2 separate regions of the Homo sapiens genome follow, and region 2 is linked to region 1. Evidence: fine-mapped expression QTL. Tissue or cell type: whole blood. Region 1 holds a variant in brackets; the other region holds the start of a gene. All regions are shown on one strand. Distances are from middle to middle.

What was found. PIP is the estimated chance that this variant, and not a neighbour inherited with it, causes the effect.
Region 2: NOTCH2 starts here. The variant in region 1 is fine-mapped to the expression of NOTCH2 in whole blood (INTERVAL, PIP above 0.99).

What each region holds. Positions count from the first base shown.
Region 1 is chr1:120,381,914-120,389,412 of GRCh38, reverse strand. No RefSeq gene overlaps it. Among named protein-coding and RNA genes, the nearest start is that of NBPF8, 29 kb to the left of the region's middle. The variant G/T (reference allele first, on the strand shown) is at 3,243.
Region 2 is chr1:120,065,425-120,072,923 of GRCh38, reverse strand. NOTCH2 (notch receptor 2) reads left to right here and starts at 3,262. Exons shown (of 34, transcript NM_024408.4): 1 at 3,262-3,590. The coding sequence starts at 3,518. It overlaps LOC101929178 (a long non-coding RNA gene), which reads right to left and starts at 3,096. Exons shown (of 2, transcript XR_254374.4): 1 at 2,913-3,096.

The DNA of each region.
Region 1 (7,499 bases):
GCTTTGCTCAGAAACTCCTCGATCAGGAATCCCAAGCATACGTTAGTGATGACGGTCCCAAAACAAGGGACATTTCTTAACCATTCTAAAAACCCGTTTGCTCATCAGTAACGCAATAAGAGTTGCTTTCGGTCTTGGTTCATATATTTTATATTTGAGCAAGGCAATGTCCGCTGCTGGGGTTAGAAGTAAATGGCTCGTCTTCAGCAAACTAGATCAGTCCGTGGGACGTACGGCTTCCACTCGCAGTGTCCTGAACACTGGCTGGGCTTCCTGTGCGTTCTAGCCGGTTTTCTTTGGAGCCGCGGGTTTCTGCACGGCTCCGGGGTCGGGATGGCAGAGGCTTCTCGGAACACGCGGATCTATGAGTGCAGTCCCCGGGGTAGCCACCAGGGAACGCCATAGGCTTTCCCGCTGTGTTCCTCCTTGCCTTTTCCGTTTGGGCCCAGTAGTTTCTATTGACCATGACATTACAGATCAGAAGTGGGTGGGGTCAGAAAGCACACCCTGGGAGAAGCTGGCAAAATGCCCAGAACCGCCATCACTAGGCCTGGGGTTTTCTTCTGTAGTGGAATTCTCGTGCTTATGTAGTACAGGGAGGAGCGCAGCGCATTTCCGCCAAGACAGGTGAGACTGCAGTTCTGACCTGCGGGCCTCGATGAACTGCGTTAGGGCCCCTGGGCGCCGGCAGAGCCGATCTCCTACACAAAGCAAGCGTGTTATGTCTACAACCGAACGGGGACACTAAGAAAGAGCCCCAAAGGCCCTGCTTTCATCCCAAAGAACAGCGCCTGTCTGCGTAGTTTCTACCTTGCTCTATGAGGTGAGAACACCTTCACCGCTGGCACAGAAATCCTACAAACTCCTGTGGGGACCGCGGTTACAAGCAGACGCTGTGTGAAAGGTGACTCTGGGGGCTAGGGAAAAACACGAAGATTTTCACAGAGCGTGAGACCCCAAGAGACTGGAGACCATGGACCAAATTTCTGCGAACAGTAGCCTTATGTAGAAAGAGCTATGCAATCTTCGTGCTAGTTAGCTTGTGATACACATGCTCACAAAGGCTGGCGCTTCCTTCTCCAGCGAAAAGCAAGGCGATATATCACTTCCCGATTCAAAGCATCCAACTGTAAGAATAACAGTGTAGGGAGAAAGGTCTATAGTCATGGCAATATTGCCTAATGATATTTTTTTCTGTGATGGTCATTTTATAATATTATTTAAAAGTTTTTTTTAATTAAACAAGCAATGGAACTTTGAACAGAAAAATATGAAATTAAAACAATAAAAATTACCCATAATCACACTAGACTGTGATAACTAAACTGTGAATATTTTGGTTTCATAAGCTTTTAATCTTTTTCCTTAGGTATATAAAAATATTTAAGAACCAAAGAAAATTATATCACAATGGGTATATCAACTTAGTATCAGTTTTACTCATTTAATATGCCAAAGGTAACCTACTTATCCTTTGACTATAAGAGCTTTCTAAATGTCTGTATAATATTACATCAGATGAATGCAATATAATTTATTTTAAATATTTCTTTTTTTGTTGTTTTTTTTTTTTTTTTTTTTTTTTTGAGACGGAGTCTCGCTGTCGCCCAGGCTGGAGTGCAGTGGCGGGATCTCGGCTCACTGCAAGCTCCGCCTCCTGGGTTCACGCCATTCTCCTGCCTCAGCCTCCCAAGTAGCTGGGACTACAGGCGCCCGCCACTACGCCCGGCTAATTTTTTGTATTTTTAGTAGAGACGGGGTTTCACCGTTTTAGCCGGGATGGTCTCGATCTCCTGACCTCGTGATCCGCCCGCCTCGGCCTCCCAAAGTGCTGGGATTACAGGCGTGAGCCACCGCGCCCGGCCTAAATATTTCTTATTGCATATTTAGATTGTTTCTAATTTTTGAGTATGATCAACAACTCTTTGACCAGTATTCCTATAGCTAAGTGCTTATGTTGTAGGTCTGATTATTTCCTTAGTACAAATTTCTAACAGTGGAGTGTCAGTCAAAGGGTATGTACAATGTAAACATGTAGATGTGTATTGTCAAATTATCCCCCACCAAGTTCCTAAAATATGCATCTTTACTGTCATGGTGTAACTACCAAAGTCCTGTACCCTTGAAAACATAGATTCTTATTTCAGAACATCTTTATCAGTTTAAAAGATAAACTATGCCATCCTCTTGTTGTTAGTAAAGTGCATTTCTTTGATTACTCCCCTTTTACAGAAGAGTAAATGAAGATTCAGTAAGTTTGTGTGAGTTATGCATGGGTGCATAGGTAACGCGTGCAGAAAGCAATCACTTCAGTTTTCCATATTTGAGGTCCTCTCTGGGCCAGTACAGTTCGAGACACTAGAAATTCAAAACCACAGATAATGCCCTCCTGGGCCTGTAGGATGTACTTGTTAGGTGGCAGGGGCGAGGCCCAACCAGTGTGCACAACAATGTCATAGCCCCAGGTGAGTGTGGGAGGGGAAGTTGTAGAAATATTTTCCAGCCAAATAAATCAGTGAAGTAAAGATAGGCAGGAGGCAGGCAAAAAGGAGGCAGGACTGGCAGGTTGTGGGGGCAGGAGTGGCCACGGATGAGGAGCCAGGCTTGGCTACACAGGTGCAGGTGGCACGTGTCATAGGCACAGGCATGGAGATCTGAGGGCGTAGAGGGGAGAAGACCATGCACCGCCAATGTCAACTGTGTGGAAGCAAACCTGGGCTACATCTAAGAGTCCTGAGAGCAGGGGAGGAGAAGGGAGGAAGAGACAACAGAAGTCCTGGGTGGGAAGCAGAAATATTTCCTGAGTCAATGAAAGAGCCCCAAGCCTCCAGACCTGCCAGGGCTCAAGCAGGCAGCTCCAGATGCCAAGACCTATAATCCAGCAGTTCAGGTTGATTTTGCCAGAGTAGTGTGAAGAGGCCCTGATTTTCCCCTTTAATGTATACCCATACAAAAGGCAGAAGAGTTGTTTGAAAAGCAGGAGATTCACAGTTACAAGCACATAGGAAGCACAAGAAAAACTGGTAGAAGGGATCTGGGCCCTTCAATGTTGACAGCCTTCTCTAGGAGCCCTGGCTACAACAGAATGAGAAGGATCCTTGTGGGGTATAAAAAGGTGGGAAGGAGAACAAGCCAAACAAAACACCACCCTCAGGACTACAGAGAAGTTATTTCAGGCGATGCATTGATTCCATGTTTTTGTTTCCATAGGTTGCTGTTTTGTAACTTTTTTTTTCTTTGGT[G/T]AAGGAATTAAGTGTCCTCCCCCACTGTCTGAAGAAAGTTATGCCTGTCATGAAGCGTGCCCTTACTTACTTTGAAGGGGACAAGCCTTTTCTAGCTTCAATATTTATTTCCTATTTTGATGGGGAAACCTTTAGGGAAGTAGAAAGAGAGCTTAAAGCCTTGGGGGAGACATTTTACGTGCTTGCTAAAAAAATGCATTAAAATATTTAGTACATGTCCTGAATGTAACCCAGCCCTCCAGAGCTATTTTTTTCTCACTGTATTAGTCCATTTTCATACTGTAATAAAGAACTGCCTGAGACTGGGTAATTTATAAAAGAAAGAGATTTAATTGACTCACAGTTCAGCATGGCTGGGGAGGCCTCAGGAAACTTACAATCATGGTGGAAGGTGAAGGGGAAGCAAGGCACCTTCTACACAAGGTGGCAGAAAGGAGAAGTGCTAAGCAAAGGGGAAGAAGCCCCTTATAAAACCATCCGATCTTGGGAGAACTCACTCACTATCATGAGAACAGCATGGGGGAAACCATCCCCATGATTCAATTACCTCCACCTGGTCTCTCCTTTGACAAATAGGGATTATGGGGATTATGGGGATTACAATTCAAGATGAGATCTGGGTGGGGACGCGAAGCCTAACCATATCAGGGGAGGGGGCTCACAACTGAATATTTCAGATAATTTTAATATGTGCTGGTATCCACAAACAAGAGCCAACGTGGACTCAGCAGGAAATGTCATGGGCCTTCTGTTTCAAAAATGATTCAGATAGACTTTTATGCTTTTACATGTGCCATATGGGAGTGGGGCATTCTCATCTTGTTCCTTGTTTTACCCTCAGCATCTACCTTTCATAGCAGTAACTGATGATCATGAAATGTTTGTTGATTGAATGGCTGAAGTATAGACAGATGCAGCTTCTGTCCATGAAAGGCATCCTGCTTGCTCCTTGCACTGTGTCCAGTGAAAACTCTTGTTTCTCTGCGCAGCTGCAACACGTTTCACATCACAAGGAGCACAAGGCACTGGCTTCCATTTCCACCCTGAAGCTCAGCAGCCCCATTTGCGTCCCATCAGCTGCCTGCTCCGGAATAGAGGAGGGAAGGGCTGGGCTTCAGAGTTTGCTTTTTTTTCTTGGTTCTGTGAATGGAAAAGGATCCTGTGAAGGGATCCAGATTGATACCTTGGGGTCTGGTGTATGTAGGTCTGTTTGTGTTAACTCACCATTTAAAGACAGAAAAAAGGAAAACATACATATTTATAGCCTCCTAGAGAGAGCCTTGGTGCTAGTTTTGATGGCTTGCTGGGAACACAAGTGAAGTCAAGGGGGGTATTGTGGTTGGGAGCATTGATTTTGGGAGGAAAGTGGTGCTGGTATCATTTAGGGAGGGACAACAAGATGCTCCTGTGGACCACCACTGATTCTCTCACGCTGATGACATCTGGCAGTAGTGACAATGTGATGGGAGCCCAAAGAGGGGAGGGTCTTGTAGAAATTTCACGTGGTTGCATCAACTTCAGCTTTTGGTAACTGGTGGATAGCCAAGCAGCAGGAGTAGGGCAGAATACCATGAGTCCGTGAACCAGGCAGAGAGTTGAATGACATGAACTTGAGTCAGGGAGGAGAAAACTAGGGGCCGGGCACATCTTTGATTAGTGAGTAACCAACAAGGTGGACCCCCAGAGGGCTTAAGGCCCTTCGCTGGAGAACTAGATGGTTATCCCTGGGTCCTGTTATTGAGGCTAGCTTCTCTCAAGTTTCAACGCTAGTCAGACCACCATATCTAAATCATGGAAAGTGTACCACTGGTTATGTTAAGAGGTGATGTTTGAATATTTAGATGGAGATAATCAAAGTATTACAAAAATGACAAAGGATTCAATGCAGTAAACAAGTTAATTTACACACCAGAGTCAAAATTTCACAAATATTATTGCATAGAGTGAAGATAATTTTTTAAAATTTAAATTAATTTAACAAAATAAACATAGTACTTAAATGTGGCTTTTTTGGTTAGATTATTTTCTTATTCAAGATTTTTCCTTTCCTAGTTTATAAGTATTTTGTTGCTATTCTTTCACTCTCTGAAAATTGCAAAATGCATACTTAACTTTTCAAATACAAGTTTTTCCAAAAATTGTATACATCTCCTGAAAATGAGTGCCTTTGAAGATGGCAACTCCATTTCTGCTCCCTCTAATTCATGAGTTATTCTTGACTTGTTTTGTGGAATTAATTAGTTTCATCTTTTTCTTAATGGCAAAAACTACTTGTCATGATTTTTGCATGTTTCCTACCTTCTTGATCCTCATCTTTTTCTCTGATTTAATTACATCCTTTTCTGAGGATATGCTGCAGATAAACTCTCTTTTTTTGTTTGCCCAAGAATGTCTGCATTTCATCCTACTCTTAAAAAGTGGGTCCTAGAAATTCTAGATTGGCAATTATTTTTTATTAGCACTTTGGTGATCTGATTCTTCTGGCATCCGTCTTTCATCATTTCTGTTGAGTAGTTAGTGGTCAATGCCATTCTGCTGCCTTGAAAGTAAGCTGTTTTATTCACTACCTTGTGGATTTATGCATGTGTGTGGTTGTTCTTTGGTTTTACTATTGTTTTTGGTTCGTCCAACTCGCCATGACATGTTCAAGTGTAGTTTTATGTTTGTGTACCCTCTATAGATTTAGGAACTTCCCGTTGGCTTTCTTTTGATGTAGGGTATCAGTCATTATCTTAAAATATTACTTACAAAGGTTTTCTCTGTTCTATGTTCTTTCTCCTCTTTGTTTAGGAATCCAAGTAAAAATATGGTAAAATGTCTCACTGCCTCTGTTTTGCTGTGATGCATTCTGCATAATTTCTTCTGACTGATCTTTGGATTCACTAGTACCTACTTTAGCTACTACAAAATAGTGAACAGCCATTGCATTTAAAAATTTATTTTTTGCATCTTTCTATTTTAGAAATGTTCTTTGTTTCCTTTTTCACACATTCCAGTCATTTAAAAAATATTTATTTTATTTTAGATTCAAGGGGTCCATGTGAATGTTTGTTAAATGGGTATATTGCATACTGGTGGGGATTGGGCTTCTAGTTCACCCATTACCCAAATAATGAATATTGTACCTAATAGGTAGTTTTTCAACACTCACATCCTCTCCCCTTTGGGAAACCTCAGTGTCTATTATTTCCATCTTTATGTCCATGTGTACCAATTGTTTAGCTTCCACTTGTAGGTGAGAATATGCAGTATTTTATTTTCTGTTTCTGAGTTAATTCACTTAGAATAATGTTCTACACCTCCATCCATGTTGCTTCAAAGGACATGATTTCATTCTTTTTTATGGTGGTGTAGTATTACATGATGTGTATATATATCACATTTTCTTTATCCAATCAATTATTGATGGACCCATAGGTTAGACTTAGGTTGGTTCCGTGACTTTGCTATTGTCATGGTATTGTCCTATAATGATTTGTTTTCCTTTGGGTAGGTGTCCAGTTATGAATATTTCTGGGTCAAAGGGTAGTTCTGTTTTCAGTTCTTTGAGATATCTTCATACTGTTTTCCATAGAGCTTGAACTAATTTATATTCCCACCAATAGTGTATAAGCGTTCTCTCTTTGCTCTGCATCCAAGTCAACCTCTGTTTTTTTCTTTTTTCAACTTTTTAATAACAGCCATTCTGACTGATATAAGATGATATCTCATTGTGGTTTTAATGAGCATTTCTTTAATGATTAGTGATTCTGAGCATTTTTTCATGTGTTTGTTGGCTGCTTGCATTTTTTTTTTTTTTGAAAAATGTCTGTTCATGTCCTTTGCCCAGTTTTTAATGGGGTTGTTTCTTTTTCTCTTCTTGAATTCTTTGAGGTCCTTGTAGATTCTTGATATTAGTCCTTTGTCAGAGACATATTTTGCAATTCTGTTTTTTTTTTTTTCAAGCATGGCAAGAAAGATTTTATTCAGGACCAGAGCAATAGTTACAGGGACCACTGAAATGTTGTCTGACAGTGGGGAAGAGAGATTCTATGCTGGTCATTTTTAACAGCTTTCTTTTATTATTATTGTTATTATTATTATTATTATACTTTAAGTTCTAGGGTACATGTGCACAACGTGCAGATTTGTTACATATGTATACATGTGCCATGTTGTCGTGCTGCACCCATTAACTTGTCATTTACATTAGGTATATCTCCTAATGGTATCCCTCCCCCCTCCCCCTACCCAACGACAGCTCGTGGTGTGTGATGT
Region 2 (7,499 bases), 320 kb after region 1:
ATGTGATAGAAACCGAGGCAAAACAGAAAATAAAACAGAGTTTTATTTTGAGAGTTTTTTTTACAGCTTATCGGCTCTGAGAGGACAGACATGAGAACAAATAAGTGCCCAATTCTGCATTTATTTTGGAAGGCAGTTTTATGTGAGTTTAAATCAGTAAAGACATAGATGTATATTTTTAGTTTTGATTAAAACTAAAACAATTGGTAGCCCTTATTCATATTTTTCTATCATTAAAACTTATCTTTAAAAAATGTCTTCAGTCATATTTTTCCCTTACTTCCATTCATATTTACTCTTTACTTCTCTTGTCCTTACCAGAATGTATGCAGTAAGTTTTCATATTGTAACATATTCAACAAAAGTTATATGTGAACATAATAGCTGCTTTCTTTAAAACGGTTACTTTGAGAAACTGCATACCTATTTTTTTTTTTTTTTTTTTTTTGAGACGGAGTTTCACTCTTGTTGTCCAGGCTGGAGTACAGTGGCACGATCTTGGCTCACTGCAATCTCTGCCTCCTGGGTTCAAGTGATTCTACTGCCTCAGTCTCCTGAGTAGCTGGGATTACAGGTGCTCGCCACCATGCCCGGCTAATTTTTGGTATTTTTAGTAGAGACGGGTTTTCAACATGTTGGCCAGGCTGGTCTCAAACTCCTGACCTCAGGTGATCTGCCCACCTCAGCTTCCCAAAGTGCTGGGATTATGACATAAGCCGCCACGCCTGGCCTGCACATTTATTTTAATAATGTTGTCATAGCTACAGTCGCTTCTAGAGTTGCTCTTTGGGGATAACTATCTTATATTCTTCTGAATATATTTTAATAGTGACAAAACTTATCTTTGCAGGTGATTTTTAAAATTTGTATGCAGCCAAGTCACTATGAATTATCTTTAGTGAGTAAAGAGGAAGATCGAACTGGTAACACTGTGGGTAAACAACTGAAAAATAATGTTATCTTTCTCTGAACATACTTGCACAAGACAAATTCCAAAAATATTTTGACTACATTATTTTTGAAAAGGGTTTCCAGTATTTCAATGTGACTACTTTCACTAATGGTACTTGCTTACCTAAAGTGCTTGTTAACATGCAGTTTTGGAACTTCATAGGTCTATGCCCATACTGACTTGTACTTGCTTAGTGTTGTTTCACATTCTAGTTCAACATCTATTATGTGATAGACACTGGGGATTAATAGGCTGTGGTCTTTGCCCATGAGGACCTCAAAACTTAGTTGAGAACACAGAAATACAAAGAGTCCTGTGTGAAAAATAAGTATCGGTGTTAAGATAAAGAAGCGGCAGTGGAAGACAGTGGAGGGACTGTCTGTTAGGGGGAGGAATTTATTGCGGTGTCGGCAAAGCCTTCTTTGGACTGAAGGATGAATTATGATTAGAAGTTCATTAAGAGGAGGAGGGAAGGGGACTACAGGAGTCATTCCAAGCCAAAGGAACAAAAGATACAGGGACAGAAACAGCAAGATATGTTTGGGGGAATCTCAAGTTAGTCAATACTGTTATTGTGTGAAGTTCACAACAGGGGCAGGGAGGACAGGAGATGGGGCCCAATGACGAAAAGGCCTTGTATGTACCATGTTTAGAAGTTTGAATTTTATCCTATAGGAGTCAGGGAGAGGTTCTATGGGTAGGATTTCCCATCCCAACAGGATTGTAAACTCCCACATCCAATTAGTCACACCTCCATTTTTTTTTTCTGTTTCTTTAACATTGTCTCGGATTCATTCCTTCTGAAATCTACCTTATTAGTTCAGGTCTTCTTAAATTTGTGCCTGGACTGTTCACCAACTCTTGACTGGTCCTGGGGCTCCAGTTCACCTCTTGCTCCCCCAACAATCAATTTTCTACAGAATTATCAGAGCAATCTTCCTTTCCATCAATCTCAACTCTGTTCAAAAACTTTCAATAGTTTTATGTGACCTAAGAGGTAGCTGCCTCCCCACCCTTTCAGCTTGCCATTCAAGGCTGCATAATTTGGTCCCAACCCCCTTTCCGTCCTTGACTCCTCTCACTGCTAACAGAGACAGAACTCATTTACTTACTCTTTTGACTGTACCTTTGCTTTCACGAGGGCTCTTTCCTGGAATGATATGTCCATACAACTATTGTTGCTGTTCTTACTTTTAGCTCTTTTCTTAGAAGCCCACTTGTACCCAGGTTTGATCACACCCCCTACTCTCCTGCCCTGGAAGTAACTACTATTCTGGTTATAGTCTCTTAATATCTATATCTATATATATGCATCCACAGATAATGTGTAGTATTGTCTTGAAAAAAATATACATAAATGGTATACTTTGTCTCCCTCTGTGATTAGTTTTTTCACTATCATTTAGTTTTTAAGATTTATCCCTATTGACATAAATAGCTATAGTCTTTTCAATTACTGTGTTGCATTTCATTTTATAAATATACCATACATTATTCATCCATTCCTCTAAGGGTGGGCATTTATGTTGTTTTCAAGGTTTTGCTATTACAGTGTTACAACGAATATCCTTAGCTTAGCTGGTCTCCTTGTCTTATACAAATTTTACTGACCTTTCAAGATCCTGCTTTCATCCCAGCTCCTCTGGGAAAGCCTTCCCTGAATCCCCCAGCCCACAGCGGCAAAGTCTTGGTACTCAAAGTTGCTTGTGCATCTTTGGTATCATCCCACTGCCAAGCACACAGCTACGCAAAGTAAGGCACTTAAGAAATATTCGCTACACGGATGAACAAATGAATGAATGAATGGGGCAGCACCACTCCGTGATGGCTCTATTCCTTTTTAATGGACTTTGGCGCCTTGGCCCACTTTCCTTCTTTGACAGCACTGGTCCTACTCCAGAGCATTCCTCTAGCTAGCAAAGCAGTGTGTGGATGTGTGGGTGTAGGTGGCGATACAGACCTCACTGGATGAGGACCGCCTCTCCCTGCAAGTTCACGATCCCGGCAAACTCCAGTGCTTGAAGTTCAGAGTCCTACCCCACCCCCCTCACCCCCACGCCCCTTCTGCACTGGTCAAGCCAGCGAGCCGCTGCAGCCCTGATCGAGTTAAGGCGCGGCGGCCCCCGGGGCCGCTGGAGAAGGATGCGGACGGGGCCAGTGACTCGTAGTAGATCCCTCCGCGCGGAGCTCGGGCCGGCGCTTCTTCCTGCGGGAAACCCCTGGGTGCCCAAGGCGGCGGGGCCGAGGCCGCGGCGACAGTGGGGCGGGGCTTGCGGTGGGAGGAGGCGGCTGAGGCGGAAGGACACACGAGGCTGCTTCGTTGCACACCCGAGAAAGTTTCAGCCAAACTTCGGGCGGCGGCTGAGGCGGCGGCCGAGGAGCGGCGGACTCGGGGCGCGGGGAGTCGAGGCATTTGCGCCTGGGCTTCGGAGCGTAGCGCCAGGGCCTGAGCCTTTGAAGCAGGAGGAGGGGAGGAGAGAGTGGGGCTCCTCTATCGGGACCCCCTCCCCATGTGGATCTGCCCAGGCGGCGGCGGCGGCGGCGGAGGAGGAGGCGACCGAGAAGATGCCCGCCCTGCGCCCCGCTCTGCTGTGGGCGCTGCTGGCGCTCTGGCTGTGCTGCGCGGCCCCCGCGCATGGTGAGTATCGGGCTGAGGGGCGCTGTCCGCGGCGCCCGGGGCTGCCACCTGGGGCGACCCTTCTCCCCCTCGGTCCTTCTCTGTGTGGGAAGGCCAGGCTCGGCCGCCGGCGCGGAGCGAGGCCACTCGCTGGGTTCCCAAGAGTTTGGACATCGCCGGGGGCCCCTCCCGTGGTGCCCCGCCAACCGCCGGGGTTCCCCGCCGCCTCTGCTCCCCGCGGCCCGGGACCCCTTACACGCCTCCTCGGCAGGAGGGAGGCCGGCAGCAAGTCTCAGAAACTCCTTTTTCGTAGTGCCAGGGTGCAGGGAGGTGGGCAGTTTTGCCCTTCAGGTTCCGCGTTTCTTGGGGTCGAGCGAGAGCCGACGGCGGGCCTCGGAGGGGCTGAGCGAAGGAATGCCAGATTCTGGCGTGGAGAGCGGGGGCAGGGCCGCCAAGCCAAACGGCCTGCACCGTCGCAGCCAGCCTCGCCTTTGCCAGGGGGCGGCACATGGGCCGGGTGTGTGGGCTTGGTTTGGATGGGGACGGGGTTTTGCGGCGCGCCTGAGTTTTGACACTCCAACCCCACCGAAAGTCCGGGGGAGCCGTGTGTGCTGCTCGCGTCTTTGAAAGGTGGAGGCAGGAGAAGTAGGGCAACTGGTGTGGCTGCATGCTGAGGCACATGATTTAAAAATCTCAACTGCTGTTATTCTTTCCGAGGCGCGGAGCTCTGCTGCTGTTTCAGGCTGTGTCCAGACCCAGGAATGTGGTGTGACGATCACCAATTCCTCCAACCTGGCAGCAGCATTTGCTGCTCCTTTGGCATGGCTGGGGGTGGGGCACGGGCGGGTGAGAAAAAGTGGATACGTTAATTCAAAGGGCTTCCTTAGAAAGCTTCTTTATGGTTGGATGTTTCTAACACGGTTGGACCAAGGAAAGGGAATCAAATCATATCTTCCCCATCCCACCCACACTTTTAGATTCTACATTTCTTCAGACCCTTTAGTGGAAATAACTTGGGCTTTGGAGCCCTGCTCTGTAATCCTGGATTCAAATCCAGCTCTGCTATATGAACTCACCAATAAAATGGGAAAGAAATTATCCAGCTAATAGGATTAATTAAAATAATGTATATTAAACGGATGACACTCCAAAGGTGTTCAGAAAGTCCTTTCAGGGCCGAGGCTGTGTTTTACTGCTTCTGAGATTGATGCTCCCAGTGGGATGCTGTCTTGTGCATATTTGTTGAACGGAAAGCAGCCCCTTCTTTTTCTGAGCCTAATCTGAATAAAGATTTTTACCTTCACCAAAAAACTAGTACATGAACTACATCTGTTTTCAAAGAAAAGGTTAGGAAGATGATGAGCTTCAGAAAAATATGGTCTTTGTTCATTGTTAACAGTCAGTCGACATGTCAATCGCAGATGTTTAAAAAGAGAACAAGGTTATTTATCACCCGAAAATAGTACTGGGTTGTTCAGCACCAACTAGATACTTCTTGGAAAGTTCAAATTTCGTACACGTCTAGGTCACTAAGAATTTCAGAAGTGGACCAGGAGGCTTTGTAGTGATGAAGCAGAGCCGTTGTTTCTGAAGCATTTAATAAAGAGCATATATGATGGTGTTTTTGCTTTTCCTTTTTCTTTGAGTGAAAGCTTTAAGTGTAGCTTTAGGATAGAGAGGAGTATGATCAATGAGACAGTCTGAGGGTAATAATCCTTGGTCTATCATTAACTTGTTTTGGTAAATAACTTAATCTTCATGATATGTAGTCTCCTCACCTATGAAGCAGGACTAAAGGAATAACCTGCTTTAGAGAATTGTAGGGAATAATAAATATAATTGTAAAGTGATTTGAAAAATTAAGTATTAAATAATATGATATCAGAAATGGGATTACTCTGACACATAGGGCTTCTTTTATTATAGGATCTCAGTGCATAAAACTATGCCCTCCACCTCTGCTCTGCTGAGGTGCTGCGATTATTAGCTAGCTTTTAGGTAGTCAAGTTGAGTGTTAGTCAAGTTGACTCAAAGGATAGGATTTAGATATTTTGATTTTTAGACAGGTGTTCTTTAGATGCTAAACTAATGCAGTAGAAGAGATTTAGAAGCCGTTTCTCGGTACAAATCTTAAATCTTCTTAGAGTCTACAGTGAAGGCTTCTTGAATCCTCTTAATTTATTATTGTGTTTTGCTAAGGTACCAGTTGCAGCACACCCTTCTAAACTTTTGAGTGTTCCTGTGTTTGGCTTGTGGCCAATTGTTAATTTAAACATCACGGAGTTTCTAAGGCAAGGAGATGTTAGCAGTATGTCTGATTGTCTAAACAGCTATCCAGGACCATCCTCTTGCTCCTTGTTTTCTTTTGCTTTGCAATGGGAAGTGACTCCCTGATTTTGCTGCCTGCTAGATAATTTCTCAGCTGAATTCTTCTCTTGCTTAAACAAAATCGGAGTAATTTTCTTTCAGATGGTGATGAAATTTAACCTAAAACTATTTTTCCTTTCACTTTCTTATTATTCCTTTTTTTTTGGTGTGGTGGAGAGGAGGAGGAGAGTGATTCCTAGTCTCTCTTATTTTTCTGAATGTTTAGATTTAAAAAATATTTACCCATAACTTCTTGGGATCTCTCTGCTCCATTCCCACCCTACTGCCTCTCCTGTAGGCTTCTATGACATAGAGGAGCAACTTTTGGTTCACCTGGATTGTAGTTGCTGACTTCAGGACCTTTAGAGAATGTTTAAATTCAGTGGGATATGCTTGGATGGTTCAGAGCAGCCTTACAATACATCTTAAAAATATCACACCCACAGAAATTCTATTTTGCCCACAAAATTTGCATTGATCTAGTTCCCACTCTGTGTTGCCATTCCTAGTGATCCTCCTCCCTACCTCTCCCATTATGGTAGAAAAAACTCTGTGTCCTGGCTACATCAAAATCTGTTGGGGTGGATCTTGGACTCAGCACCCAGGGATTCTGATAAGGTAAGTTTGAGAATCCATATTTTTTCAAGGTTTACAGGTGATTCTGACAAGTAACTTGGTTGCAACCCACTGATTAAGTACATTTTTTTTTACCTTCAGGTGTGTGTATGAGGTCTTTCTAAATTTAAGAAATTTCCATAACAAATGTAACCTTAGTCATTCCAGTGTTTAACGCTTCTGACTCAAGGAATTTAAAAATTGCTAACGTAAGAGATATAGAATATAATGTCATTTCTTCTATTTATCTGGGTGCAATATGTCTGCATTGACCCTTTAGAAGGGCTTCATATATTTAGATGATATAATAAATTCTCCACCTCTCCTTTTCCCTTTTCTTCTGTTATCTCTTTTTCCTTAAATGTCATTCATACATGTTGTTTTTTGACCCTTTATCTATATACGTCTGCAATGATTTTAGAGTAAAAAACTGCAAGGCGTGATTTGAATAAGGATATAAGAAATTTTACATCATTTTCTTTATATTGTGTTCACAGTCCATAGTTACATGCTTCCTTTCTTGATGTCTCAGTTCGAATGCCTAAATTTGAACTATTGATTTTCCTTCCACCCTTTCCTGATTTTCCTGTTTTTGTTTCTCCCCCTTTCTCTGCAAATGACTTGAAACCAAAAGGTCTTCTTTTCTTTCTTTGTCAGCCTACCGTATGTGTAGTATTTTGGACAGATCACTGAACTAGGAGCCAGAAGACCAGAATTCTTCTCCAGGTCTGTTATTAATTGGTTTGGTGACCTTGTAGGAGAGCCACTGTTTCCGTCCTCCATTTTCTGATGTTCATTGTTCATGGTCACAGAGCCAATTAGAGTTGAGACTAGAATTCCTTTCTTCTGGTGTCCAGTGCCTCATTCACTGTCCTCATTGCTTCCATCTCGTGTACAAATGCGCTTATGTGCACAAAAACTCTTATAACATCCTCAAGTGCTTATTGT